Linked DNA regions of Homo sapiens. The protein of the gene in region 1 purifies or fractionates together with the protein of each later gene. This does not show direct contact. Each region holds a gene or a part of one and is shown in the gene's direction. Other genes may lie near its edges. The genes, in order: SLC35F1, FBXO11, LAPTM4A, DRAM2, MSMO1, ATP13A3 and ITPR3.

Region 1 (4,700 bases):
TATAAAGATCTACATGAATTAATGTATTCAACTCATTTTTTTTCTAAGGTAAGCCTATGGGGTAAACATAGGCAAATGAAGTTGAAGTCATGCTACGTTATGGGTAGAACCTTGTGTTTCTAATGAAACGATCTGTGACATGAGTTGTACTAGTCCCAGTGTATAGAGGAGGAACTTATACTTATGTTGGGTTGACGGCATTTCATCGCAGGTATACAACCGTGAATGGAACCCTAGGTTTGTAGCCTTTAGACTTAAGCTAAAACAATTATTTATTTATTTGTCTTTCAAAGTTATTCAAAATTTTCAATATAATATTTTGTATTGAGTAACTGGCTTTTCCTTATCCTTAAAGGATAAGAAGAAACTCTTTGTTTCAAGAAAGAACATTTTTAGTAAGGAGACTGAAAAATCTGAGCAAGTTTTAAAATCTCAATGGCATAATTTATTTAGCATGCTGATGGGCTTGGCTTTTGTGCCATAATTATGTCAATGAGAGCCTTAATAGTGGCTATAGAGTGATTAGGCTCTAGGTAAAAGTGAGAGTATGGGGGAGAGTGAATTTTTGAGATTCTGCAGAGTGCTTGGATGTGGCTCCCCTCTGGTTTGAACCCTCATGATGTGTTGGACTAGTCAGTAATGGATATCAGGCAGGCCCATTGGGGCCTAATCATAAGCATCTTTGTCAATTTTCTAAGAACTCACCATCTGCTTACTTTCTCCTTTTTTGCTTTCTTCTTTTCCTCTTCCTCCTTCCTGAATACTTCACCCACATTGCCCTGTCCACTCATTGTCTTCATTTGTCTTCTTTCCTCTACCCTTGGCATGCAGCAACTTAGCTCCTAGCAGAAAGTGGTTCCAAATCGGGAAGCTGGGAGCCAATATAAAAAATATCCCTCCAACTTTTGACATGCAGATATATGGTTAGCAGCATTCTATTGCTGTGGGCTGGTAGGGCTAGTCTCTTCAGTGACTGAAATGGGGGCTGTACCACTGTCAGCTCCTAGCATCCCACTGGGCCAAAGGGGTAATGCTGAGACACAGAGTGGTGCAATGGGACGAGAAATATTAGACTGTGAGCAAGCCAAGCCTGGCGAATTGCCTGCCATTGGTCACAGTCTACAGGAACAGCTATCTGACAACCCAGAGGAAGAACTGCAAACACATACGCTATCTATATCCTGTCTACCCAGGGAGAGTTAAAGAGAGAATTGCTCATCAATAATTAATTAAAGGTACTTCTTGCTCTCAAGAAGCTTAGAATGAAATATAGTGTTATCTTAATAAAATCTGCCTTACATTATTCAGCATCATTTTATTTCCATAGTATACTCCATAGCCTCTCCCCTTACTCTAAAGGCTTGTCGAGTTGGATTGCTGCATTTTGTACACAACAATTGGGGTATTTCATTGGTTGACTACTCCCTTTCTGTGAAACAGTTAGATTAGAATGTAATTATATTCAAGACTTGGTGAAAGAGGAGGCACTAGATAATTTTTTAAAATAATTAATGGGACATCACATTTTTTCCCCTGGTATACTCAAAATTGTTTTGGCAAAAGGATGCAAGAAACATGACAATTTAAATGCTGGAATAATTACTACTCCTTTAATATTCAAAATTGTGAACCAATCAATATATTGATTCAAACAAGGAAAAAATACGGCAAAGTCTTCTTCACATTTCCCTCCCCTCCCCTCCCCTCCCCTCCCTCCCTCCCTCCCTCCCTCCCTTCCTTCCTTCCTTCCTTCCATCCTTCTGGCAGGATCTTGGTCTGTTGCCCAGGCTGGAGTGCAGTGGCATGATCACAACTTATTGCAGCCTTGACTTCCTGGGCTCAAGTGATTCTCCCACCTCAGCCTCCCAAGTAGCTGGGAATACAGGTGCACACCACCATGCCTGGCTATTTTTAAAAAATTTTTAAATTTTTAGTAGAATCGAGGTCTCGTTCTGTTTCCCAGGCTGGCCTCAAACTCCAGGCCTCAAGTCACCCTCCCACCTTGGCCTTCCAAAGTGCTGCAATTGCAGACATGAGCCACTGTGCCTGGCCTTCCCTTATTTCTTAGCATGGTATAGTATATATTACCCTGCCACAGGCAATCAGAAAATGACGAAAAGAAAATACTTCAAGGGCAACAGTTGATGACCCTCTCAAAGAAACTGCTGATCAGGTAGATTTCTTAGACACATACAGGAGTAGCTACTGACCTACATATTAAAGTGCCTGAAGATTTTGTACTCTAAATGATTTCTTAATGAAATGTTTTTGAGAAATGAGTGATAGCTTGTTTTGTGTTTTGCATATGTGTGCTTTTATCTTTTCCCACATGAGTATTATTTTCAGTTGTTAACAGAAATATCTGTGAATTTCTTGTTTTGATACACTTTCTTCCCATTAAGACATACAGTGGGTTGTCTCAAATTATAAAGGGGTTTCTGCCTCTTTGAGTCTTATGGCGGGAATGTTTAATCATTAGAATGGAATCACTACTGATTCTGACTCATCCATTCATTTGATTTAGAATGAACTGATTTCCAACTTATATTTAGATTTATTTTCAAATTTCTGAAACCTTTTTGAATATAAACCAAAGATCGTTAAGGATATACATAGAAGAGTTTGAAGCAAGCCTACATAAAATCAATGTCCAAGTAGGAAACTTACCATGTAAAATGGGACAATATGTGTACATAGCCTTTCTGAGTCATTAAATAAGGTGGACAGAACATCATGAACCAATGGATATGACTGAACTCTAGGTATTCCATACAGTTGGTGGAAACATATAATTTAGATGATCCTTTCTGATCAAGTGAGAAGGCTTTTGTTAGGAAATTAATGGTGAGAATCTTCCTCAAGCTGCTCCGTCTAAAACATGTCAAAATGAAAAGAGGAAGATCAGCTAGTAATGAGGTTGATTAATATAAAATATTCCAAGTGGAACTGGGTGGTGTGATTAAAAACAGACTTTTCTAAGATCAGTAGTAAAGAAAAGATGTCTGAAGGGTGCATTTGTTTTTAACTAAAAGGACAAAATTATAAAAATAAATGATTATACCAGTATACTTGTATTTATGCCCAGTGCTTGGAGAAACTAATGTTCACATTAAAGGGATATTTGGATTACCTCAGATAAAGATGATGTGTTTTCAGGTAATTAACGTGTATTAAAATATACTTGTCTTTGTGTGATTTTCTTTGAACTTTTACTTTCTCAAAATCCTTCAGTGTCTTAGGGGCATCTTAACTGATGTCTGTTTTCACTGTACACATCTATAGATGTAGAAGGTATAGGCAATTGAGCTGCTGCTCATATCGCTCATATAGCTCTAAAGTTACTTAATGCAAGAGATGTTTTATTATGTAGTTGCCATTTCTCATAAAAATAATATGGAGCATGTGAAAGTACCACCACCAGATTTTAGTTTAGCTTGCTTGTTCATTTGCGTTCAGGCCAATGAGCATGCCCTGTACATTGTTCAGACACATTAATTCTTGATTATGCTTCTCAAGAAGTATGCTTAGGAAGACAAACTTCAGTAGATGTATGGAAAAAACCTATGAATTTTGGGCATGTTTCTTAATGGTAACATGAACATATACAGGTCTATATTCATTTATTCTTAAGCAGTAACTGTATGCTGAGCCTTCTTATGGAATACACACATGTGACGAAACATTATTCTTGGGCCAAAACCTCAAAACCTAACTGGGAAACTTGACATGTGTATCACTATTTAGAATGAACGTTGTAATTCATAATCTGAATTGTTACACATAATGCCTAAATAAATGCTTCCCAGTGTCTAGATATTGGAATAATGTAAATGAGCTGTTCAATATGCAATGCGTATTAACCTTGTTCTGACACTTTGGAATTATACAGGGAATCCTTGAATGTACAATAGTTAAGAAGGAATTTCACAAGAAATGTCAAAGAAAACAATAACAATAAATATTCTTTAGGAAGTATTTTCTTAGAAAAAATGTTAGTGGCAACTCAGTTAGTTAGTGGCAACATGAGTATAATTTTTTGAATTATATTATAATTTAAGTTTTAAAAATATTGTTTCAGCCAGGGGCGGTGGCTCACAACTGTAATCCCAGCATTTGGGAGGCCAAGGTGGGAGGGTCATCTGAGGTCAGGAGTGTGAGACCAACCTGGCCAACATGGCGAAACCCCATCTCTACTAAAAATACAAAAATTATCTGGGCGTGGTGGTATGCGCTTATAGTCCCAGCTACTCAGGAGGCTGAGGCACGAGAACCACTTGCACCCAGGAGGCAGATGTTGCAGTGAGCCAAGATCACGCCACTGCATTCCAGCCTGGGCAACAGAGTGAAACTCCATCTCAAAAAAATCCCCCCAAAAACAAAAACAAAAGAATCCTATCTATCTATCTATCTATCTATCTATCTATCTATCTATCTATCTATCTATCTGTCTATCCACATATATACACACACGTGTATATGTGTGTGTATATATATAGAGAGAGTTTCTATTAATTTAAATTCTAAACTTTGTCTGAAGAATATTTACTATGTGACTCTCTGAGGATTAAAAAAAAAAAAGCCCTTAAATATAGTTTTGCAAGTTCCGAGATTATAAGCCACCAATTCCTAATAAATTCCATTTAAAAAAATAGAGAAACCTACTATAACTGAACAAACACTGAATAGATTTTTAAAACCAA
Region 2 (4,700 bases), on another chromosome or scaffold:
CTCACTGCAAGCTCTGCCTCCCGGGTTCACACCATTCTCCTGCCTCAGCCTCCTGAGTAGCTGGGACTACGGGCGCCCGCTACCACACCAGGCTAATTTTTTGTAGTTTTAGTAGAGATGGGGTTTCACTGTGTTTTCCAGGATGGTCTCGATCTCCTGACCTCGTGATCCGCCCACCTTGGCCTCCCAAAGTGCTGGGATTACAGGCTTGAGCCACTGTGTTATTTACAAGTTTTCAACATGATGGGTTGGTTTCCACTAGCATCTTTCAAATAATCTTTTTTTTTTTTTAATTTTTAAAGTATTATTATGAACTCATAGATGGATGGATTGACTGACTGATTTTGAGACAGGGTCTTGCTCTGTCACCCAGGCTGGAGTGCAGATGTGTGATCATAGCTCACTGCAGCCGTGCTCTGTTGAAAGCACTTTGGAGGCCAAGGTGGGAGGATTGCTAGAACCCAGGAGTCTGAGACCAGCCTGGGCAATATAGTGAGACCCCATCTCACCAAAAAAAATTGTTTTTTAGTTAGCTGGGTGGTGGTGCATGCCTGTAGCCCCAGCTGCTTGGGATACTGAGGCAGGAGGATTGCTTGAGGCCAAGAGGTTGAGGCTGCAGTGAGCTGTGATCGGGCCACTGCACTCCAGCCTGGGTGACAGAATGAGACCCTATCTCCAAAAAAAAAAAAAAAAGATGTTCATACACCAGACTACCCTCTGACACCCTTTTTAACCTACCTGGTATCTCATGCACTATATTGAGCCGTTCCTCTTCATAGACACACTCCTTGCCAAGCTGCCTTCACCATATATGGTCTCTAACCATGTAGTACCAGTTCCCTTCCCACTCCTCTCAGCAAGTGGATATCCTCCTCACCTTTTTTTAAAAAAAAGTCTTCCACGGCTGGGCGTGGTGGCTCACGCCTGTAATCCCAGCACTTTGGGAGGCCGAGGTGAGTGGATCACGAGGTCAGGAGATCAAGACCATCCTGGCTACCACGATGAAACCCCATCTTTACTAAAAATACAAAAAATTAGCTGGGCGTGGTGGCGGGCGCCTGTAGTCCCAGCTACTCGGGAGGCTGAGGCAGGAGAAAGGCGTGAACCCAGGAGGCGGAGCTTGCAGTGAGCCGAGATTGCGCCACTGCACTCCAGCCTGGGCGACAGAGCGAGACTCTGTCTCAAAAAAAAAAAAAATCTTCCACATTTTATAGAAATCTAACATTTCTTTCATATAGCTATCCAGTTGGTTGGAATTTCATATAAAACTTACATCTGCTCCCTCCCGAATTTGAAGTTTTAAGAAAGTTTTCTGTATCCATAGAACTTTTTTTAAAAAGGGTATAATTTTTCTTATTGCTTTTGTTTATAACAGATGATGATGTGCCTGCAGATATGGTTGCAGAAGAATCAGGTCCTGGTGCACAAAATAGTCCATACCAACTTCGTAGAAAAACTCTTTTGCCGAAAAGAACAGCGTGTCCCACAAAGAACAGTATGGAGGTAACTTTAACTGTAGTTGCTTTTCTTTTTGTAATGAAAGAATTTTCAAGAAACAAAAAAGGGAATGTCATCCTTTTTTAGAAGTAATGATTATGGATGATAAGAATATTTGCTTTACTAGTTTCTGTTTTGTTTTTGAAGGGCGCCTCAACTTCAACTACAGAAAACTTTGGTCATCGTGCAAAACGTGCAAGAGTGTCTGGAAAATCACAAGATCTATCAGGTATTTCCTGTGGGAAAGTAACAAATAGGGTAAAATAATTTTTTTTAATTTTGCTTGATACCAAAAAATGAAAATTAAGTGTATTCGAGTATTACCTTTGGGATTCAGAAAGTGATTATTACAGAATAAACTTTAGAACCCTGACCTCTCCCTCTGACTTTTATTGTTGTATAAAAATGCTTTTTATGTATTTATTTTAACCATTTCTGAGATGGCACATAATACCTAAAAGAAGGAGTACTTTTGTTAGTTCAGGATAGAGATAAATATGTGTTACCCATGAAACCCACATGCTTATAAAATGACCATTATCCAAAAAAAAAAAGCTATTCATTAGATAAAATGAAAACTGTGTTCTTTAAATAATGAGAAAGTTATTGCTCGAATGATAGTTTATATGTTAATCTCTTTATAGCAGCACCTGCTGAACAGTATCTTCAGGAGAAACTGCCAGATGAAGTGGTTCTAAAAATCTTCTCTTACTTGCTGGAACAGGATCTTTGTAGAGCAGCTTGTGTATGTAAACGCTTCAGTGAACTTGCTAATGATCCAATTTTGTGGTAAGTAAAAACCTATTCCTTATTAACTTGAGATATGTTATTTGTTGCCCAAAATGCTAAACATGGTAGGAAAGTCGGTGCGGTGAGTTGGTAGTTACAATTAGTTGGAACAAAATTAAAATGCTTATCAATTCCAAGTTACAAATGGGGGCTGTCAGTCCAGGTGGTATTTATAAATCAGTAAATGAAGTCTTTTATCTGCTGTTTATCAGTTAATAGCAACTGATTGATTATGGGAAATGTTTTTCTTTTAGTAGCTTTTTAGAAACATAACAGTGTAATTTAAAATAGCTAATGAATTTTAAATCTGATAGATTAGAATGTAGGTTTTATATATCACTTTTGGAAAACAGTTGTATTCATGAATCTTTAAATAATTCATGCCCTTTGACCCAGTAATTACTGGGTCATGCCCTTTGACCCAGTAATTCTACTTCTGAAAAGTTTTTTTTGCTTTATGTACAGATTTTTCGTAACAGCCTAGTTAATAATGAGAAAAATTATAAATAATCTAAATATCCAGAATTAAGGGAATGAACTACATAAACTGTGTAATGTGTACTTGGAGAGTTGTGATATAACCACTAATAGTAATTTTTACAAAGAGATTTTCATTTGTTTTTTGAGAGACAGGGTCTTGCTCTGTCACCCAGGCTGGAGTGCAGTGTCACGCTCCTAGCTCACTGCAGCCTCAACCCTCTGGGCTCAAGCCATTCTCCCACCTCAGCCTCCTGAGTAGCTGGCACCACAGGCATGTGTCACCATGCCCAGCTAATTTTTTTTTTTTTTTTTTTTTTGAGACAAAGGGTCTCACTCTGTTACTCAGTCTGATCTTGAACTCCTGGGGTCAAGTGATCCTTCTACCTCGGCCGCCCAAAGTGCTGGGATTATAGGCATGAGCCATTGCACCCAGCCCAGGTTTTTAATAAGATGAAAAAAATGCTGTTATAAAAAGTGAAAAGAGGCCAGGTGTGGTGGCTCCTGCCTGTGGTCCCAGCTACTCCGGAGGCTGAGGCAGGAGGATCATTTGAGCCCAGGAAGTCAAGGCTGCAGAAAGCCGTGATCGTGCCACTGCACTGCAGCCTGGGCGGCAGACGGAGACCCTGTTTTTTAAAGAAAAGAACAGAGTACAAAATTGTATATGCTATATAATCACAACTATAATAAATGATCTGTAGATAAAATGAGTGGAAGCAAATATGGCAGACTGTTAATAGTTAATATATTGAAACTATAGTTCTTTACACTTCTTTGTTTTACAACGGTTATATGTATTACTTTTATGATGCACAAAAGGTGCACCATATATATATATGTTTTTGTTGTTGTTTTTGACGGAGTTTCGTTCTTGTTGCCCAGGCTAGAGTGCAGTGGCACAATCTTGACTCACTGCAACCTCTGCCTCCCGGGTTCAAGCAATTCTCCTGCCTCAGCCTCCTGAGTAGCTGGGATTACAGGCACCTCCCACCATGCCCAGCTATTTTTTGTATTTTTAGTAGAGACAGGGTTTCACCATGTTGGCTAGGCTGGTCTTGAACTCCTGACCTCAGGTGATCCTCCTGCCTGGGCCTCCCAAAGTGCTGGGATTACAGGCATGGGCCACTGTGCCCGGCCCACACCTTACATTTAAGAGAAAAATTACAAAGGAGAAATGAGAATGAAGAGCAGCAGAACAAAACAGCATTGCTCACTGTACCAGAAATGATAATAGTTAGCCATTACTCCAGTTTGAAGATTTCATTGTGCTTGATAGGATATAAATGGACTGAAGATATAGGACAAATTAAGTTCAAAGTATTTTTACTGAAAATTATCTTTTTAGGCTAGGCGAAGTGGCTCACGCCTATAATCCCAGCACTTTGGGAGGCTGAAGTGGGCAGATTACTTGAGCCCAGGAGTTTGAGACCAGCCTGGGCAACATACTGGGACCTCATTTCTACAAAAAAAAATCAAAAAATAAGACAAGAGGATCACTTGAACCTGGGAGGTTAAGGCTGCAATGAGCCATGATCACGCCTCTGCACTCCAGTGTGGGCAACGGGAGTGAGACTCTGTCTCAAAAAGAAAAAGAAAGAAAATTATCTTTTTAAGTGATAATCATGATGTTTTTACAGTAAGGATAACTTTTTTTCCCCTTCCTGAGTAAACAGTTTGTAAGGAAATTGAAACTTTTTGTTGTTCTGTGTGGACAAATTTTCATACGCAGTTACATTGTGAAAATTTTTGCAGGAAAACTAATTTTCGGCCAGGCATGGTGGCTCACGCCTGTAATCCCAGCACTTAGGGAGGCTGAGGTGGGTAAATCACTTGAGCTCCAGAGTTCGAGACCAGCCTGGGTAACATGTGCCTGTAGTTCCAGCTACTTGGGAGGCTGAGGTGGGAGGATCATTTGAGCCCAGGAGGCAGAGGTTGCA
Region 3 (4,700 bases), on another chromosome or scaffold:
CAGGTGGGAGCTTAGCACAATCAAGTGTGAAAAAGAACTTGGTGTTTTAGGGAGTTACTCTCATGTGATATTCAGAAAATTTGTAAAGCCAATGCAGGCTGGGTGCGGTGGCTCATGCCTGTAATCACAGCATGTTGGGAGGCTAAAGCAGGAGGATCACTTGAGGCCAAGAGTTCAAGACCAGCCTAGGCAATATGGTGAGACCTTGTTTCTAACAAAAACAAAAAACCTCAGTACAACTTCAGGTTGCATTAATTGAAATTCGTTAGCCAGAATATGAGAACTGAGATCCCATTATGTTCTGACCAGGGTGACTTTACCTCATTTTAATATATGTCCATCAAACTGGAGCATGTGTAAAGAGGAAGACAAAAGGGAAATAGGTAGCTAGGAAACATGCTAGTCAGAGGAATGGCTTAAAGATCTGCATGTCTATTCTAGAGAACACAGTATTTGGAGGCTGTTTTCAGGTATTGGAGCACTTATTTAGAAGGGAGAGCACATTATCTCAAAAGGTAGATTTAAGGCCGGGCGTGGTGGCTCACGCCTGTAATACCAACACTTTGGGAGGCTAGGGCTGGGTGTATCACTTGAGGTCAGGAATTAGAGACCAGCCTGGCCAACATAGTGAAACCCCGTCTCTACTAAAAATACAAAAATCACCCGCGTATGGTCGTGGGCACCTGTAATCCCAGCTACCAGGTGGCTGAGGTGGGAGGATCACATGAGCCTAGGAAGGGGAGGCTTCAGTGAGCTGAGATTGCACCACTGCACTCCACCCTGGGCAATAGAGTGAGACTCCATATCACACACACGCACACATACACATACACACACACACACAAAAGTAAGACTAGTAGATAAGTGACTTTCAGTATCTTGGTAAGTCTCTTAAGCATTTGAGTCTAGCTCTAGAGGAAATAGTGAGTTCTCTGTCACCTGATGAGAGATGCTGTGGAGGGGTTTCGGGCATCTGATGAATAAATATAACAGATGAACAGTAACTTCTTCAAATCCAGAAATTCTGAGATTGGTATATGAATAAATAGGTAGCTTCGAACATGAACCATTTGTAATGATTCTTTAGTTTTAATTTTTTTCTGGTGTATTGGTTAAGCATCTTATCTCTCAAATGGTTAATATTACTTATACTTTATAAAATATTTATTTTTAAATTATTCTCATAGTGGTAATTGCGTATTGTTTTATCTCACAGGTAGTCTCCCACTATTTTATATCTTTGTTACTTCAAGTAAGACAATCTTAAATATGAGAGGACATCTAGAGATTGTGCTAAGATTGCGTCGTGATGGTAATTAATGTAACTGATAGAATGTTATCTTTTCCAGGTAGTAAACCTATTGATGGCAATTTTGCTGACTGTGGAAGTGACTCATCCAAACTCCATGCCAGCTGTCAACATTCAGTATGAAGTCATCGGTAATTACTATTCGTCTGAGAGAATGGCTGGTATGTGTTTAATAGAAAAACAAAAAAATCTCCCCTGCTAATTTTTATATACAGTCCTGTGTTGTTTAATGATGGGGACACATTCTGAGAAATGTCACTGGGTGATATTGTTGTGTGAACATCATAGGGTGTACTTACACAAACCTAGATAGCGTAGCCTACTATACACCTAGGCGATGTGGTAGAGACTCCTAGGCTAAAACCTGTACAGCAGGTTACTGTACCGAATACTGTAGGCAGTTATCATACAGTGGCAAATAGGTGTGTATCTAAAGATGGAAAAATATAGTAATACTGTAAATACACTATTACAGTGTTATGGAACCCTCATGATATATGCAGTCCATTGTTGACCAAAATGTTGTTGGCCCATGTCTGTCTGTCTCCACACACACTGGTTATTTAGGGGATTGATTAGATTATGCTTAAGTTACATTTCAGAAAGTTAAAATGGTTACATAATAAGGGTAACAAGTTAAATTATATTTAAGTCATTCTTGCTGAGGCAGGAAAGTATTTTGATGGGTTTTTCAGAGAGATTCAGTGAGGATTACAATAGAGCATTTCTAGCCAGAAAATGTAATGGACTATTAAGTTTTTGAGAAATGTGTAAAATGTACCTTGAAATCAAAATAAGCATGCAGGCTTCATAAGACTTTTTTTTTAATGTAGCTACTAGTAGAAAGGAGAAGTTGCTATGGTTACAATATATGTGTCCCTCCAAAATTCACATGCTGGAGCTTAACCTCCAAGGTGATGATATTAAGAGGTAGGACCCTTGGGTGGTGATTAGGCCATGAGGGCTCTACCCTTATGAATGGGATAAATGCCTTTCTTTTTTTTTGAGACAGAGTTTTGCGCTTGTTGCCCAGGCTGGAGTGCAGTGGTGCGATCTCGGCTCAGGGCAACCTCTGCCTCCTGGGTTCAAGCGATTCTCCTGCCTCAGCCTCCTGAGTAGCTGGGATTACAGGCACACACCACCACACCCGGCTAATTTTTTGTATTTTTAGAGTTACTCCATGTTGGTCAGGTTGGTCTCGAACTCCCGACCTTAGGTGATCCACCCGCCTCAGCCTCCCAAAGTGCTGGGATTACAGGCGTGCCACAGCGCCCAGCCAGCGCCCTTCATTTTTAAAATCACATTTATATTATTTATTTGTTTAAAAAAAGTTTTTTAGAGAAAAGGTCTTACTTTGTTGTCCCAACTGGAGTGCAGTGGTACAGTAATAGCTCACTGTAACCCAGAATTCCTGAGCTCAAGTGATCCTCCCACCTCAGCTGCCTGAGTAGCTAAATTTTTGTGGAGATCGGGTCTCCCTGTCTTTACCAGGCTGGTCTTGAGCTCCCGGCTTCAAGGGACCCTCCCACTTCAGCCTCCCAAAGTGCTGAGATTACAGGCATGAGCCACTGTGCCCAGCCCATAGCAGACTCTTGAAAGCCGATTATTTGAATTACAAATTTTGCTTTCAAGTTTGATAATACCTGTTTAATTTCATATTTTGTTTTTACCTGAATTCTTCTAAGTGGAAGTTTGCATGTTGTAGCAGGGAAGTCCTTTAAATTCTTAACATTTATCAATCCTGTATCCTCTAAGAAAAAAGTAAAGAGGACTATTCCTAGTTTAGTGCCAAATATTGATGAGGTTTTACTGCCCAGTGATAAATTATATATACATGCTGTGCATGGTGGCTCATGCCTGTAATCCCATCACTTTGGGAGGCCGAGGCAGGTGAATCACTTGAGGTCAGGAGTTTGAGACTAGCCTGGCTAACATGGTGAAATCCTGTCTCTATTAAAAATACAAAAATTAGCTGGGCTTGGTGGCGCAGGCCTGCAATCCTAGCTACTCTGGAGGCTGAGGCAAAAGAATCTCATGAACCTGGGAGGCAGAGGTTGCAGTGAGCTGAGATTGTGCCACTGCACTCCAGCCTGGGTGACAGTGAGATTGTCTCAAAGAAAAAAAAAAAGTTGTATATACATTTACCCAATAGGGAATATTCAGCAGTTGTTCTAGTCATTCATCATTATTAGTGCCCTCAGTATTTTTTTTCTTTTTTCATTTTTAAAACATCTTTTGTGCATACAGGGTCTTGCTATATTGCCCAGGTTGGTCTTGAACTCCTGGCCTCAAGTAATTTTCCCACCTTAGTCTCTCAGAGTACTGAGATTACAGGTGTGGGTTGCCGTGCCCATCCCCCCCAGTTTCTTAATCTCTGCCCAGACGGATCACCTGATGTTGGGAGTTTAGACCAGCCTGGCCAACATGGTGAAACCTCGTCTCTACTAGAAATACAGAAATTAGCTGGATGTGGTGGTGCTTGCCTATAATTCCAGCTACTTGGGAGGCTGAGGCAAGAGAATCACATGAACCTGGGAGGTTGAGGTTGCAGTGAGCCGAGATCGCGCCACTGCACTCTAGCCTGGGCGACAGAGCAAGACTCTGTCTCAGGAAAAGAAAGAAAAAACTGTCCAGAGTCACAGAATCAACTACAGATTTGTGCTAAGAAATTCAGTAAGTCAGGCACGGTTTAGAATTGCTTGAGATTACTTGGCTGTTTTGTGAAAAAATTAGTGAACATGGATTAATGGAGAGTTGGAACAACCTGAGGAAGAGTTGAGAAACGAAGAAGAAAGTAGTGTGTGTTAACATAGATACCAGGGTGCAGGAAGCAATGAATTTTGGTGTTTGGGAGGTTGGGTGGGGAAGTGAGGTTAATGGCGAAATTTGAATTTCAGGTTATATTTATCTAGAGCAAAGGGTAATGTATGTAGCATTCTGAGTTTAATACACTTGTCTTTTAAGCAATTGCCAGCCATTCCTTCCAGCTAAACCCTACTCATAAGACCCATCTTGTGTCATTTCTTCATATTTTTTCCTGATGCTTCAGGCAAAGCAAATTGTTTCTGCCTCTGTTGTAGCACTTGACACATTGGATTATAATGATCTGTTTGCACATCTTCAGATTCCTGGGCTCATAAGGGCACAGGGACCTGTTTCTCTAGCAGAGAATGTGGTTCATGTGCCATCCTACACCCATGTCAGTGAGTCGTTGGAGCGATTTAACAAATAAGTGCTTTGTGTGAATGTCTCAAGGTTCCTTACTTCATGCTGAGACTTTGATTTTTTTTTTTTTTTTTTACCCTCTTGGCCTTAGATCTTTTTATAGCCAATTTTGAAAATATTTAAATTTAATATTTTAAAGCTAGCTTTAAGTGAAGTTTTGTTCTTT
Region 4 (3,216 bases), on another chromosome or scaffold:
AAGTAAGAACTTACAGTCTATAAACTTAGTTTTATATTAAAGATGGTTATTTTGATTGATCTTGATATGTTTTTCATTTCATCAGTAACAATGAAAGTCTTCTGGTAGAATAATCAGTTCTGTATTAAAATTATTTTCTTGATATGGTAGGGTTTATGTAGAACCTTCCATATTCTCCTGTCACCTGTGATCTGTAGATATTGTCAAAATATGAAGAGCATTGCGATGGCAGAAGAGTTTTCTGAGAAATTGACTCCCCTAAATGTGGGTATAGTATATAATATAGCCAACCGAGATCATTTATGTTTTGAATACTTGTTTTCTGAATTGAAAAGACATCTTCTCCCACTTTTTGTTATCTGGAAATTGATTATGGACTCTGCATTTAGGATTCAATATAGTGGATATCTGAATGTAGATATAACATCTGGGACTCTGAGAATAGAGGAAGAGGAACATATACTAAAGAATAAAATGAGTTCATCTGTTTTCACAAACCACTTGGTGGTGTTTTATATAAGAATTAGCCCCAAATTGGGCATGTTTGTGAAAATGAATGAATGAAATAATTTACTAGATTTTCCCAATTGTAACCCATATATTATTTAATATCGTAAACACAGCACTTACTAAGTTTATTCTGAGCATTGTTAAACTTTTCTTAGTTGCATATTATGAATCTTATGGCTTTGGGTAAGGCAATAGTAATTTCTCGATTGTAGAGTAAAAATGATCCTGTTCTATCTTAGCTATTTAATTGGAAATTTTATTCGCTCCCAGTGAAACAAATAGAGTGTCATTTAGGAGGATTTCCTAATGCTGGCTCTTTAATTCTAGAGATATTATATGCCTGGTAAGTCAAGGGTTGATTTTCAGAAGCTCCATTATTTTATAAGAATTGTGTGTTTTTTATTTGAAACATAGTATATAGATCGTTTAAATGAAATTTCACAAAACTATTCTTTTTTTCCCATCACTCAGGGTTATGTGCTTCACATGATCACTACTGCAGCAGAATGGTCTATGTCATTTTCCTTCTTTGGTTTTTTCCTGACTTACATTCGTGATTTTCAGGTAAGAAGGCACAATATTAGATTTATTCAGTCAGACTTCCTTCTCTTAGTCCAGGAAGGTAGACTAAGAGAACTTTCCATAGGCAACTCTCCCGCCTTTTTGAAAATTAACTGTTTGTGATTTGGTATCATAAACAAGTGATGTAACTTTTCAGGTGAATTGTTTCTGTGTTTAAAGAAGTAGTGTATTGCTAGCAAGATTTAGCCTTGAAAATGGGGCTATAAAATAAATTTCAGAAATTCTTACATAGAATTTGTTATCGATTCTGTGTACTTTTACATAGGTCATTCTCAACATTTAGTTTTACTGATTCTTAGTAGAAACCAAAGAAAAACAGGGAACTTTATGAATTGAGAAGCTTGGTTTTTCCAGATTTTAATTGGTACAAAGAGGATACCTTTGACAGTAAAACAGCTGTCTCACTACCATTAGAATTGATTTACATTCATAATCACAAGGTAGCCTATAGAACATATTGAAGGAGTGATCTCTCTTTAAGGAGCAAACTTCTATATATAATTTTCTTTTCTGTTCCAGAAAATTTCTTTACGGGTGGAAGCCAATTTACATGGATTAACCCTCTATGACACTGCACCTTGCCCTATTAACAATGAACGAACACGGCTACTTTCCAGAGATATTTGATGAAAGGATAAAATATTTCTGTAATGATTATGATTCTCAGGGATTGGGGAAAGGTTCACAGAAGTTGCTTATTCTTCTCTGAAATTTTCAACCACTTAATCAAGGCTGACAGTAACACTGATGAATGCTGATAATCAGGAAACATGAAAGAAGCCATTTGATAGATTATTCTAAAGGATATCATCAAGAAGACTATTAAAAACACCTATGCCTATACTTTTTTATCTCAGAAAATAAAGTCAAAAGACTATGATATCATAGTTTTTTATACCTTATTTAAGAGAAACAACCTGACGTGCACCAATCAGTCTGCACATCCCAACCCTTCACATTTTATAAATTATTGTAGATCATGTTTTGTTAGGAGCACTTTTATGAGAGACATTTTCCATGACTAAATAATCAGCATTAGTCAGTAAATCCTTTAGAACTGGGTTTTGAAATGGGAGTTTTATCATATTAAATCATTTCTTGTAGTCTTACATTTTTTGTTGTTGTTCTGGAATCTACCTGTAAAGGAAAGTAGACCTGGATTCATGTGGGCTCTTCCATGGCTTAAGTGTTGCCCAAGAGATTTTGTAGGTAACGATTTTTTTTTTTCTGGCCACAATGCCAGATACTAAGCTAATTGGTCTATCATACACATGCTTGCAGTAGTTTCATGAAGTTTAGTCTCTGGCGTGAAATTTTAATCACCAATGAAGGAGAGAGGCACCTGTAGGTAAATTTACTTTAGTCATATTTTATATAAAACAAGGGTTAGTATTCATGTAACATTGAGAAGTTTGGGAATAACAGCAGATATGATTAATAAAAGTCATAACCATACTCAAGAGCTTCTTAGATTTTCATTTATGGCAAGTTATAATTACATGTAAAAGTAGTCTTGAACAGGTAAATATTGAGCCTTTTTAATAGGATGTAACCTTTGTAGAGCCCAAATTCTAAAGAACAAAATTGGCAATCCAATTAAACTACATGCAAAATAAGTGTGATACATGCATCTACAAAAACAGTGTTCTCATTTTTTCTGGGTATGCAAATGATTGGATTGTTTCTCCTTGGATCTCTGTATGTACAGGTAAAGAATAGTTTACAGATCCCTGCTGAAATTAAAAAGAAAAAAATGCTCATTTGGAAAGTGCCCAGTGATGAACTGGTTTGCAGAATAATCTTTGAAGAAGATTAATCAGGTTTTTATCTTTTTAGAAGAGATGGTTCCCTGGCCAGAAGAAAAGGTGGGGAGAAAACATTTAAACTGTCAGTTGGAGCAATTCAAGGAATAATGCTTATGTGATGGAGACCTCAATTATAAATTAGTTGCTAGATACAAGAATCAGTAAATAATATTTCTGAAGTCTTCTGGACTAATAAGACAGAAAGGGAATAAAATACTATGCCTATATTAAACAGCAATAAACCTGGGAGACATTTCCATAAGCATTGATTGACTAAATGCTGACATTGCTAGAAATAATTTGGATACAAACCATAAAA
Region 5 (4,198 bases), on another chromosome or scaffold:
TGAGGTCTTAACGAACATCCCATGTTGATCTAACTTTTCTCATTTTGACTTGAATCTGTGAACTCCATAATCAGGACATATCTGTGTACTTCTCAACTCAGAGAGTTTATAATTCTGTCATTGGATTTGAACAAAAGTGCATTTATTTGTTGGAATGAATACCACTGAGTGCCTGGAAGCATCGACTTACTGTGTAAAAGGCTTCCAATGCTTCGTATACAACTTCTTCAATTGTGGACACCCAACAGTAATCTTAGCATATTATATTTCTTCTTCTCTGAAACTTCTGGTAAAAGAAGTGAAGTGAATGATCTGTGGCAGCAAAGACTGGAGAATTATTCATTCCATAGTGTTTCTTAGTTTGTTTGAGATCATCATGGCTAGGCGCATCTGTTAACAGTTTCTTCACCTGAAGTAGTGATAGTAGTTGTCAAGAATTTAGAAGGCAAAGATTCCTGAGTCTTAGTTATATAAAGTTAACATAACTGACGTAGAATTAAGGTCCAACATAAACAGAGAACAAATTAGGTCAAGTTAAACTCTGATAGCAGAGACTAATATTAGATATTGTGATTTTTCTTCGTAGGATAAGCCAGAGACATGGGAAAACCAATGGAAGTGTTTCAAAGTTCTTCTCTTTAATCACTTCTGTATCCAGCTGCCTTTGATTTGTGGAACCTATTATTTTACAGAGTATTTCAATATTCCTTATGATTGGGAAAGAATGCCAAGATGGTACGTAGATAAAAATTTGGCTTTTACACCCAATTGTGGCTTATTCAGTTAAGTTATACTTAATGTTTACCCGTTTTCTTAATTTTAGTTAATGTTTGTTCTAAACTTTGGAAGTAAATAAATAGTAGAAAAGTAAACCACAGTAAAATCTTAAAATGTTTCCATTTTTACATCTTTTAAATATTTTATTGGAAGGTGAGCTTCTAGTATCAGAAGTTTCCATAACGTCTTTTGTATGTTTATATACATGTATAAGTGCTTATGTTGACAAAAATATATTACATTTTAATTTTAAAATGAATGAAATATATGAGAATCATTTATGAGGTTTATAGAAATTGTGTTTACATGAACAAAAATATGTATGTGTATATATATATATATATATATATACACACATATATATATACACACACATATATATACTCATGCGTCACTTAACGGATATCTCTTGAGAAAAGTGTCATGAGGCAAGTTGTGTGAACATTGTAATGAAATGAAATTGGTCTAATGGGCAGTCTCTTTAACCTTATATCAAGTTATGTAGCTGTATCTGGTGGTTTTGAGAATTTATTTATGAATATATCCAATTAGGTCAACCTGGTAAGTGGGTGGGTGGTTTTATGTAATGTCTCAAGCAGTGATCCCAACTAAAAGTCTGGATAGTTTAAGTAAAAATTATTTCTTACACATTACAACATTTTTATCTTAAAGGTATTTTCTTTTGGCAAGATGCTTTGGTTGTGCAGTCATTGAAGATACTTGGCACTATTTTCTGCATAGACTCTTACACCACAAAAGAATATACAAGTATATTCATAAAGTTCATCATGAGTTTCAGGTATGTGAGAGTTATATTTAATTCTTTCTGTTAGAGGCAAAATGTCTATTTTAATTGCCTGAGCATTTTTCTAAAATTGTTGGTGACGTTTTTATTTTCTTTTCCTTTGGCATGATTATTAAGAACAATACACACACATACAAACAAGCCATTTCTACACATTGTTTTCATTATTTAAATTTCATGGTAAATTGAGATCTGAAAGAAAAATATTATATGAAAGTTCGGACTTCCATCCTTGTGGACAGTGCTACACTGGCACAGCTAGATCCTCACATTGCTAACTCCCACAAAAACAGTAACTTCTATGAGCACTGCTTTTTTTTTTTTTTTTTTTTTTTTTGAGATAGAGTTTTGCTCTTGTTGCCCAGGCTGGACTGCAATGGCATGATCTCAGCTCACTGCAACCTTCACCTCCTGGGTTCAAGCAATTCTCCTGCCTCAGCCTTTCAGGTAGCTGGGATTACAGGCATGCGTCACCACGCGTGGCTAATTTTGTATTTTTAGTAGAGACAGGATTTCACTATGTTGGTCAGGCTGGTCTCGAACTCCTGACCTCAGGTGATCCACCCGCCTTGGACTCGCAAAGTGCTGGGATTACAGGCGTGAGCCACCATGCCCGGCCAATTAGAATTGCTTTGATGTAGCTTTGTCAACTGGTTATGTGAGTATGTTTTGCATTGACCGTGATTACATGGTGTGCCAAATCAAGCCTCTCTTTATTAGAAGAACAAATATAAATACTTAAGTCAAAATTAGAGTTCAAGTCAATTATTTAATGCCTTTATCTTAAACCATCAAAGACAGCAAGATTTTATATCCCTAGACTTTTGATGTGGAGTAAGGTATTTTTATTGAGAATTGCTAGTATTATTTATAAGTGTATGACTAGATAAATCATCACTACATATAGAATCAATATAACTTTGTAAAACTTTATGCATAAATAGGATATATATATTAGTGAAGTCTCCAGTGAAGCAGAATCATTGGGGTATATATATGCAGAGAGAGATTTATTTTAAGGAATCAGCTCATGCAAGTGTGCGGCTGTCAAGTCTGAAATCTGTAAAGCAGGCTACAGACTAGAAATCCAGGTAAGAATTGTTGCAGCCTTGGGTCCAAATTCCATGGAGCAGCAAGTTGGAAACTCAGGCAGGGTTTCAGTGTTGCAGTCTCGAGAATCCTTCTTCAGGAAACCTCAGCCTTTTATCCTGAAGGCCTTCAAATGATTGGATGAAGCCCACCCTCATTATGAAGGGTAATCACCTTTACTCAGTCTACTGATTTAAATGTTAACAACATCTAAAAAATACCTTCACAACAACATCTAGACTGGTATTTAATCAAACAGTTGGATATCATAGCCTAGCCAAGTTGACACATAAAATTGACCATCACAATAGCTAAGAAATTAAGAATTTCTTATCTGTTTGTCTTAGGCTCCATTTGGAATGGAAGCTGAATATGCACATCCTTTGGAGACTCTAATTCTTGGAACTGGATTTTTCATTGGAATCGTGCTTTTGTGTGATCATGTAATTCTTCTTTGGGCATGGGTGACCATTCGTTTATTAGAAACTATTGATGTCCATAGGTGAGTATTAATTTCTGTTCAGGTATAAAGCATAATGAAATATATTTATTTTCATGGCCATAAGATTATCATATTTCTAAGGAGACTAATAGGAGAAGTTAATCTTCTTAATGTTATATTAAGAAAACATAACTGTTGGATAAAAGTTTAAATAATAGATGTTTTTACATTCTAGCCTATGCTGTTATAATTTTTATAGTGATAATGTGTTATTAGGGCAAGTATATATTCAGGACCAGCAATTTCCTTATCCTTCTGTAATAAACCTAAACTTAACTCATATTTGAAAAAAATATCAAAGCATTCAGCCTTCCTTGAATAAGACTTTCTAATCTCTACTGTTCAGCACTGATAAAGGCACTTGCAAGATGAAACTACTACTTGTAACACATACATATTTCAAATGCATCCTTTCTGTTGATTGGAAGACATTTTGTGGTAAATTATTTATATTGAATGCCTTCTTAAATGCTTATCCTAATTGTTCATTATTTTTTAATTATATGTTCATTGCATTTTGACTTGGGACATACTTCTGTACTCATGAATGCAGAATATCAAATTCTAAGAATTATTTTTAAAGTGCTAAAGTAGCAAAATTAATGCTTCTAGTCCTAGGCAGAGAATATTCTTCTGTAGAAAAATTGTAATTGACATTTCTTTCTTTTTTTTTTCTATCCATTGTTTCTTTCTGCCTTCCTTCCTCTAAGCTCCTCAAAGGAAGAGAGGGTTAGAGTGATTCAAATAAGTATAACTGGATGTCTGATTGTAGATATGTAGTTGGAAATAAAGGAGCATACTTTAAATGGGACTCTTTTTTGAAGCCATTTGTCTTCTGCCAACTATAGAAAAGTACACTGGTATTTTGATTAATTGTGGTACATTTGATTCCAACTTGTCATTGCCTAAAAAAGTAAATGAAGTTGCTATACAGGGATTCATGGGCCTGCCCTTTTTAATACTTGATACTAATTTTATGTGACTTTTCCTAAAAAACATATTTAGTATTTTGGGCTTTATTTACA
Region 6 (4,700 bases), on another chromosome or scaffold:
AAATCCTATTTCTGTCTTCAAGATTTTCGAGATTATAAACCACTTTGTTGTCATTCACAAGTATAAAGTTCTTATTTCCAACATCACTGAGACTGAGAAAAAAGACAGAATAAAGATAAAGTTCCATAGGGCGTCCCCATCACTGCTTATTCTCACTGAGTTTGACCATTGAGTAGGTTGTATATCCATAGTAATATGATATAGTGCCTATGTCCTAAGATTACTATTTATCTTAGGAATAAAGCATATTCATATTCTAAAACCTCATATTCACAGTAGTTACAAAACCACCACGTTATACAAGCATAGTTTGATTCAATATATGGAATGGAAGAAGGAAAGAAACCATTATGTGCCAGGAAAAGTGCTCCTTTCTTTACATATGGTCTCAACTAATCCTCAACACTTTCAGGTAACAATATTCTTCTTTGTTAAAAAAAAAATTAAAGAAGTTAAGGAGCTTACAGTATAAGCGACTTTGAAGACAGACAGAAACCTAGCTCTGTGTTAATGTGCTTAACACAGAGGTTTCTGTCTCTGGGTTTATAAGGTTAGTTGTATGTGACTAGGCAACATAACATCTCTGAACCTCAGATTCTGGTGATAAATCAGATATGTCATCTTAATAGGTGTCACACACTAGATCACCTTCTTTTAGCACACAACTGTGAACTGTTTTGACTGTTTTCTTTGATAGGTGATAAGCTGCCAACTCCTATTCCATTTATCATCCATTCAAATATAGCTCAGTTTAACTCTTAGATATGTTGTACTCATCCTTTTCTCCCTTCTCTCTCCCTCCTTAGAATCACATTTCTTATTTTTTAAAGTTTTAAAAACATTTTTTAATACTGCTTCTTGCAGAACAGGGCTGCTCGATAGGCAGTGTGCCTGGAGTAGCCAGAAGAAATTAGAAATTAAATTTCTTCTTGGTGTTACCTCTGAATGTATTCTGAATATGCCATATCTCATCTGGATCCAAGAGGTAGCTGATGGGATTTAGCCTTGGTTTTGGAACATAGTTTTTGTGAAAATGAAGCTAATTGGCCTATGGAGAGAGTAAATCTGTAGTCGTCAAAACCATGTTGAGTTTTTTTGAGATAGGGTCTTGCTCTGTCTCCCAGGCTGGAGTGCAGTGGCTCTGTCATGGCTCACTGCAGCCTTGACCTTCTGGGCTCAAGCAGTCCTCCCACCTCAGCTTCCAGAGTAGCTGGGACCACAGGTGTGCACCATCACACCCAGCTAGTTTTTTTTTTTTTTGTAGAGGTGGGTTTTCACCGTGTTGCCCAGGCTGGTCTCAAACTCCTGAACTGAAGCAGTCTGCCTGCCTTGGCCTCCCAAAGTGTTAGGGTTACAGGCATTTATCACTGCACCCCGTCCTTTTTTCTTTTTTTTTCCCCCCAGAGAAAGAGTCTCGCTCTCTCACTCAGGCTAGAGTGTAGTGGCACGATCATGGCTCACTGCAGCCTTGAGTTCCTGGGCTCAGGCGACCTTCCTGCCTCAGCAACAAGGGTAGTTGGGACAACGGGTGTGTGCCATCATGTCTGGCTAATTTAAAAAAAAATTTTTTTTTTTTTTTTGAGACGGAGTCTTGTACTGTCATCCTGGCTGGAGTGCAGAGGCGCGATCTCCGCTCACTGCAACTTCCGCCTCCTGGGTTCAAGCGATTCTCCTGCCTCAGCTTTCCGAGTAGCTGGGATTACAGGTGCCCACCACCATGCCTGGCTAATTTTTTGTATCTTTAGTAGAGACTGGGTTTCACCATGTTGACCAGTCTGATCTTGAACTCCTGACCTTGTGATCCGCCTGCCTCGGCCTTCCAGACTGCTGGGATTACAGGCGTGAGCCACCACGCCCGGCCTTTAAAATTTTTTTGTAGAGATGAGTATCTCGGTTTGTTGCCCAGGCTTGTCTCAGAACTCCTGGCCTCAAGTGATCCTCCTGCCTCAGCCTCCCAAAGTGTAGGAATTACAGACATGAGCCACCTTGCCCAGCCAAAACCATGTTCTAATTAACCACTTAAGTTCAAATAGCATGCAAGAAGCAAGGAAATTGTTAGGTTCTCGTTTGAGTTTTGTTGAACATCATATTTTGAGAGTAGAGAAGTAAGAGAGGCTCAGATTTCTGGCACATAATTTTAATTAAGATTTAGGTTTAAAAAAATGAAAAAGTTCTGGGCTCAAATTAATCTGGAGAAAAGTAGATATTTGTAAGGTAGAAGAAGGTCCACAGTTAATCAGTTATCACTAGATAACTAGTGATTATAAAAGGAGTTAAAACGATTTGTGTTAGTAGGTTATGCACAGTGACTCATGCTTGAAATCCCAGTGCTTTGGGAGGCCAAGGCAGGAGGATGGCTTGAGGCCAGGAGTTTGAGACCAGCCTGAGTGACAAAGCAAGACTTTGTCTTAAAACAACCAAAAATAATTTGTATTAATCAGGTTAAAAATAGAGGTAAAATGAGATGACATGAGTAAATGGTAATTGGAAAAAATGATCACTGTTATGATAGTTTAAAAAATGACTTTATGGTAATCAGTAAGAAGGGAGAAAAACGGAATAAAGGAGAGAACTGTCCAAATAAGTGTCTGACACTGAGGAAGGTTGTTTGAGGATGGTGATTGCTGAAAAGTTTCCATAAAATGATTCTCTAGAGGGAACTATGCCAATACCATATCTGTTAACATCTTAGACCCACAGGGTCATATTGGAACCTTTGCTAGAGTCTGAGATGGTAAAACATTAACTCGAATAGTAAACGTCAAGACCGCAAAATTAATCTGTTAATCAGAATTTTGTCTTTTTTGTTGATTCTTACACTTACTCCCTGTGGATCTTGGTTTTAAATGATCAATTGACACTCAGAGACTAGTTAGATAAGAAATTAAATTTCCAGAAAAAGTCACTTAAGTATGTAAAGTAGAATTTCCTAATTATGTGGTCTGGAAATTGCTGATGTCTACAGAATCTTTCTCAAGTTTGAAGTAAAAATACTTGTAACTGATGTTGGGTGGTAAGGTGAAAGATGGTTCTAGCTCAGTGAGTTTTTCTTATTTTTTTTTCACAAAGGAGTTGAACATTGAAATAAAGAGGTGTGAGACTGGAAAATAATGCGGAGAGATCATGGATTATTTAGATTAGTGCCTTTTTAGAGAAGAGGAAAGTGAAGTAAGTGACAGCATAAAGGATCCTTTATGGTCTAACCCCAGATCCTTTCTCTAGCTTGGGTGTTCCTTTCACCCTTGCTTTAATTTTGTACTCTGTAGTAATGGCACATCTCAAAACTTTTGCATTTTTTTTTTCCAGTGAGAGCCAACTTTTAAGGGTTGCCTTTGCTTGCTTGACAGACTTCTTGAAACAAACTATTTTTAGTTTGTTTAAAATGAGTCATGGAATTGCTCCCACATATGTGTCTAAGGGTGGTTTCTTCATAGCATCCCTGTTGCTCTGTTTTTTTTTTTTTCCATTTGTGAAATAGGATGAAATATATTTTAGTTATTTATTTTGATATAAAAGACAAGTGTTTTGGGTCCTGATTTTTTTCTGATTGATCTAAAGAGCTGAATAAAGTGCAATCACTGCTCATGGGGCCTTTGGGCCTAAATTCTCAGATAAAAATCCTGTGTAGTCAAAATTACCCTTGGAAAAAGTCTTTTAAAAAGGCACCAGTTTGAAAACTGGTTGGAAACTGACATTCTGTCTTTCAATTCTAGTGTCCAGTTTTTCCTGTAGTTTTAGAGAGGTCCCTTTTTTGGTGAGCTGGAATCCTCACCAGCTGTGTGAGACCGTTTTGACAGGTGAATGGGTCTTAGATTGACTGAGCATAGCGGATTTATAGTCTTCATTTCATGCTCACTCTGGGACAGGGATGTAAAGGAAGGCATACTATCATCATTATTCAAATTATTTTTCTCTGTTGCTTCCCCCCAGAGTGTAAGTAGTTGAATTGGTTTTAATTAAGTGCATATATGATGTGACTCCACAGTGTGAATAATGGAGAAATAACTTAGGTATTTATGAACATCTGCTATCTCCGTAAGGTTATGCCACAAAAAGATCTAGTATAATTAAAAGGCTAGGTAATAAAGTTGAGAATATTAGGAGATTATTGGTACTGTCTGTCATTCTGAGGGGATACTCAACTACTTTGAGTGTTTTTGTTTTGTTTTTTTAAAGAATAAATTTATTCCTTACTGCTAGCAAGATCTGCATTGTTTTAAAAGAGCGATGTAAATTATTAATGGATTCCATGAAATTTAAAGTATCTAAACTTAAGTATTACTCTGGGGATAGCACAGTAAGAAAACATGAGTATGTAAAAACATGATGGTGGCTAAAAACTTAACAGTCTTATGTCCTGGGAGAGGGCATGGTGTATTGGATAAAAATGTGGGCTTCAGAGCCATAGTGATTTTGAATTACAGCTCTGTCACATACCAGTCTTGTAGTCTGGGTTAAGTAAGTCACTGAACCTCTGAGAGCTTTTTTATTTGCCAGATAGAGGTGATAAAGGGTACCTTAGAGAATTGTAAGGATAAGAGTCTGAGTGAAGGGTAACTTATTATTTGTTAACTTAGTAACATTGAAGATATTCAAAACAAGTCAGATGTGTGTGTGGGGTGTGATTGATGATTGCTCTTTGTTTTTTTGTTAACTGGAACAGCAGGCAATAATGTTATATTCAGGCTTTTTATGTCCAA
Region 7 (3,588 bases), about 84 Mb from region 1:
CTTGGTGGTGATTAAGGGAGCTGTGCTTCCTGCTTCCTTGGAAGTTAAGAGTCAAAGAAGGAATGATTTGTAAGTGCTGTAAGTAATCAGTCCAGCAGCTTCAGCGTCACCAGGAAGTTTGTCAGAAATGCAGAATCTCAGACCCCGTGCCCGTCCTACTGAATGAGAATCTGCATTTTATTAAGATCCCCAGGGGACTGGTGCATTAAAGTGTGAGGAGCGTTGCTCTGAGTGATTTTCTCTCTGCCCCATCCTCCTCAGAATCCTTCTGCCTCCTTTCTGAACTCTGGTCCCCTCTGCTTTTCCCGAGGCTGTTGGTGCCCATGTCTGTGAACCCATAGGCTGATTTGACTGAATTCCTGGGCTAACCCAGTGCCCAGTGTGTGGGCCCCAGGAGGTACCCAGTAAGGGCTGGATAAAAATGAATGTGTTGAAGGCAGGGGTGGCCTTGGTGGGCAGATGGGCCAGGTCACCTGGGAGATGGGAAGGGGGCATTAGTTGGGGAGGGAGGCAGAGGCAGCATTCAGATTCTGGCCAGAGCTCTTCAGTGCAAAGTGGACGAGGCCAATTAGAGCCTCCTGGAGAATTAGAGGTCCTAGTGAAGATTGTACATTAACTCTAGGTGGGAAGGATGGGAGGGATCTGGGTAGTGGATCCAGGAGCGGTTGAGACTGCCAGCCGGCCAGCAAGGGAAAGCAGGCCCACGCCTGTTCTTGGCAGGAGAGCAAGGCCAATGCCACTGCTTTATCCCTTACCCTAGGTGGGAGCAGCAGAGGCCAGGGATGGAGTAGCTGATTAGGGCCAACAAAAAGTGGAGGATTGAATGTGGCCTCAGGCCAGTGGCTAGGGAGAACTGGCCTTGGGTACACAGGGTGGACCCATCAGGATCTCAAGTCATCTCTTGAAGATCTCTTTTTTTTTTTTTGAGACAGAGTTTCACTCTTGTTGCCCAGGCTGGAGTACAATGGGGCGATCTTAGTTCACTGCAACCTCAGCCTCCTGGGTTCAAGCGATTCTTCTGCCTCAGCCTCCCGAGTAGCTGGGATTACAGGCATGTGCCTCCACACCCAGCTAATTTTGTATTTTTAGTAGAGACTGGGTTTCTCCATGTTGGTCAGGCTGGTCTCAAACTCCCGACCTCAGATGATCCGCCTGCCTCGGCCTCCCAAAGTGTTGGGATTACAGCCGCGAGCCACTGTGCCTGGCGAAGATCTCTTATGAGTACCCAGAGAGGTAGCCCCAGACCCACAGAAAGTAAACTGGGGGAGTGCAGGTGAACTGGGTCTTGGAGCTGAGCTTTCAACATTTGTCAAAGTGCCTCTGCCCACCCATGGCTCAGCCTTGGAGCCTATTTGGAGCTCTCAGGGCCTCTGGACCTGGATCACCCAGGGCTGGGTAATCATAGTGAGTAGGAGATGCTGCCTCTTACCCATGGGATTCTCTGTCTACCTGCCAGCCTGACCTGCTTCCCTGGAGGTCAGGACCCAAGAAGTATGGGGGTGAATATAGACGAAGCCCCAGGTCTCCAGGCTCAGGATCCCTAGGTCGGAAACCTCAGAGGCATAGCTCTCAGGAAGGGTGTCTGTCTCATGTTCCATCACCAACTTGTTGGGTGGTTTCTGTTTTGTTTTGTTTGAAATGGGGTCTTTGTCACCCAGGCTGGAATGCAGTAGTGTGATCTGGGTTCACTGCAGCCTTAATCTCCCAGGCTCAAGCAATCCTTACAACTCAGCCGCCCGAGTAGCTGGGACTACAGGCGTGTGCTACCGCATCTGGCTAGTTTTTGTATTTTTTATAGAGATGGGGTCTCCCCTTGCTGCCCAAGCTAATCTAAAACTCCTGGGCTCAAGTGATCCTCCCTCCTCTGCCTCCCAAAGTGCTGGGATTACAGGCATGAGCCGCCGTGCCTGGCCGTTGCTGGATGCTTTGAACAAGGCCCTGCCTTCTCAGAGTGAGTTTCCGTCAGCCTGCATTATCCTCTATGGTGCTCTGGCTGTACCTGAGAATCACCTGGGGATTAAAAAAAAAATTTCAGCTCCCAAGTCCCATGCCAGACCAACTGAATCACCATCTCTAGGGCTAAGGTCTGGGTGTTAGATTTTTAAAAAGTTCTCCAGGTGGTTTTAATGAGTACCTGGGGCCGGGATCCCTGATCTGGGGGCCCTCCCAGGCTGACAGGCTGTGAGGAAGCCTGCCTGCTAGGTCTACCTGCCCCTCAGCCCAGAAGGCCCATCTCTTTGCCCTCATCAGACTTCATAATGTCATTCAACAAACATTTATTAGGCATCTACCATGTGCTAGGCAAGGCACTGTTTTAGGCACTGCAGAATCAGTGGTACCCAAGGCACAGGTCCAGCTTGTTCCGTTCTGTGCAGTGGGGCCCTTTGAGCCTTAAGTCTGAGACACATGTAATTCCAGGAGCAGGGGACTGCCTTTCCCTCGCTGATAGCATTCCCTGGGTGGATTTCAGACCTGTCTTGGCTTTCTTTCTTTTATTTTTTTGGAGAGAGTTTTGCTCTTGTTTTCCAGGCTGGAGTACAATGGCACAATCTCAGCTCACCACAACCTTCGCCTCCCAGGTTCAAGCGATTCTCCTGCCTCAGCCTCCCGAGTAGCTGGGATTACAGGCATGTGCCACCACGCCCGGCTAATTTTTTTGTATTTTTAGTAGAGATGGGGTTTCTCCATGTTGGTCAAGCTGGTCTTGAACTGCTGACCTCAGGTGATCTGCCTGCCTCGGCTTCCCAAAGTGCTGGGATTACAGGCATGAGCCACTGTACCCGGCTTGGCTTTCATTTAATTGTGATTTCATTGGAAGAAGATGTTAGACTTCTGTTCTGTACCTCAAGGCAGATTCTTGGTCTTAGCCTAATCCATGCAACTCATTTTTTGAAAATATATATATTTTTTCAGATTAAAAAAAAATATACATTCCATGGAGAAAATGTGAAAAACTCAAAAAAATGATCTGTAATACCACTATGGCTTACATGAACATTCCCTATGACCTTCTAGCCTTTTATATTCATAAATGAACATTTACAAACAATATCAAACTGCACGTATGGCTTTGTACCCTGTCCTTTTTTGCATATATATAGTGAGCTGTATTTTCCCATGCCAACACACCATTGTTATGGCTGCACAGCCATGGTATGCTGTACCTTAATTTATTTAAGCAACTCTAGTATTCAACATTCAGGCTCTTTGTAAATTTTTGCTGTTAAGAACAATTTGCCCTGAACATCCTAGTGCATGCATGCCTGAACACTTGTCTAGTTATAGTTATCCTCTCAGGTAATACGTTCCCAGAAATGGAGATCAAAGACAAGGTACACCTTTAACTCTTAGGCTGTCTAACTTTTTGTGTTTCTGTGGTGGTGGAGGGGTATAGGAACAGAACTTGGTGCCACAGAGGGTCAGACATGATTCATGTCATGTGTGAGTGTTGCACTAGCATGTGGGGAGTAAGACCAGCCTCTGCCCTCAAGGTTAGGTACTAGGCACTTCCCAGGCAGTGCGAGGATGTGATGGAGAAGGGATGAAGTGGAGAGGGGGTGGCGCGGGGTTGGCTCAGCCTAGAACCAG

What was found.
Region 2: the proteins of SLC35F1 (region 1) and FBXO11 purify together in Homo sapiens (affinity purification with mass spectrometry; one large-scale study listed by BioGRID and IntAct). This does not show direct contact.
Region 3: the proteins of SLC35F1 (region 1) and LAPTM4A purify together in Homo sapiens (affinity purification with mass spectrometry; one large-scale study listed by BioGRID and IntAct). This does not show direct contact.
Region 4: the proteins of SLC35F1 (region 1) and DRAM2 purify together in Homo sapiens (affinity purification with mass spectrometry; one large-scale study listed by BioGRID and IntAct). This does not show direct contact.
Region 5: the proteins of SLC35F1 (region 1) and MSMO1 purify together in Homo sapiens (affinity purification with mass spectrometry; one large-scale study listed by BioGRID and IntAct). This does not show direct contact.
Region 6: the proteins of SLC35F1 (region 1) and ATP13A3 purify together in Homo sapiens (affinity purification with mass spectrometry; one large-scale study listed by BioGRID and IntAct). This does not show direct contact.
Region 7: the proteins of SLC35F1 (region 1) and ITPR3 purify together in Homo sapiens (affinity purification with mass spectrometry; one large-scale study listed by BioGRID and IntAct). This does not show direct contact.

What each region holds. Positions count from the first base shown.
Region 1 is NC_000006.12:117,909,694-117,914,393, forward strand, and holds part of SLC35F1 (solute carrier family 35 member F1), read left to right. Parts: intron 1-4,700. UniProt on the Homo sapiens protein: Putative solute transporter.
Region 2 is NC_000002.12:47,836,445-47,841,144, reverse strand, and holds part of FBXO11 (F-box only protein 11), read left to right. Parts: intron 1-1,375; coding exon 1,376-1,503; intron 1,504-1,644; coding exon 1,645-1,726; intron 1,727-2,141; coding exon 2,142-2,286; intron 2,287-4,700. UniProt on the Homo sapiens protein: Substrate recognition component of a SCF (SKP1-CUL1-F-box protein) E3 ubiquitin-protein ligase complex which mediates the ubiquitination and subsequent proteasomal degradation of target proteins, such as DTL/CDT2, BCL6, SNAI1 and PRDM1/BLIMP1.
Region 3 is NC_000002.12:20,037,661-20,042,360, reverse strand, and holds part of LAPTM4A (lysosomal-associated transmembrane protein 4A), read left to right. Parts: intron 1-1,349; coding exon 1,350-1,470; intron 1,471-4,700. UniProt on the Homo sapiens protein: May function in the transport of nucleosides and/or nucleoside derivatives between the cytosol and the lumen of an intracellular membrane-bound compartment.
Region 4 is NC_000001.11:111,116,663-111,119,878, reverse strand, and holds the end of DRAM2 (DNA damage-regulated autophagy modulator protein 2), read left to right. Parts: coding exon 1-2; intron 3-981; coding exon 982-1,074; intron 1,075-1,611; coding exon 1,612-1,719; 3' UTR 1,720-2,716; downstream 2,717-3,216. UniProt on the Homo sapiens protein: Plays a role in the initiation of autophagy. In the retina, might be involved in the process of photoreceptor cells renewal and recycling to preserve visual function. Induces apoptotic cell death when coexpressed with DRAM1.
Region 5 is NC_000004.12:165,337,203-165,341,400, forward strand, and holds part of MSMO1 (methylsterol monooxygenase 1), read left to right. Parts: intron 1-586; coding exon 587-735; intron 736-1,449; coding exon 1,450-1,576; intron 1,577-3,018; coding exon 3,019-3,173; intron 3,174-4,198. UniProt on the Homo sapiens protein: Catalyzes the three-step monooxygenation required for the demethylation of 4,4-dimethyl and 4alpha-methylsterols, which can be subsequently metabolized to cholesterol.
Region 6 is NC_000003.12:194,479,987-194,484,686, reverse strand, and holds part of ATP13A3 (polyamine-transporting ATPase 13A3), read left to right. Parts: intron 1-1,588; exon of another isoform or gene 1,589-1,705; intron 1,706-4,700. UniProt on the Homo sapiens protein: ATP-driven pump involved in endocytosis-dependent polyamine transport. Uses ATP as an energy source to transfer polyamine precursor putrescine from the endosomal compartment to the cytosol.
Region 7 is NC_000006.12:33,624,322-33,627,909, forward strand, and holds part of ITPR3 (inositol 1,4,5-trisphosphate-gated calcium channel ITPR3), read left to right. Parts: exon of another isoform or gene 1-69; intron 70-3,588.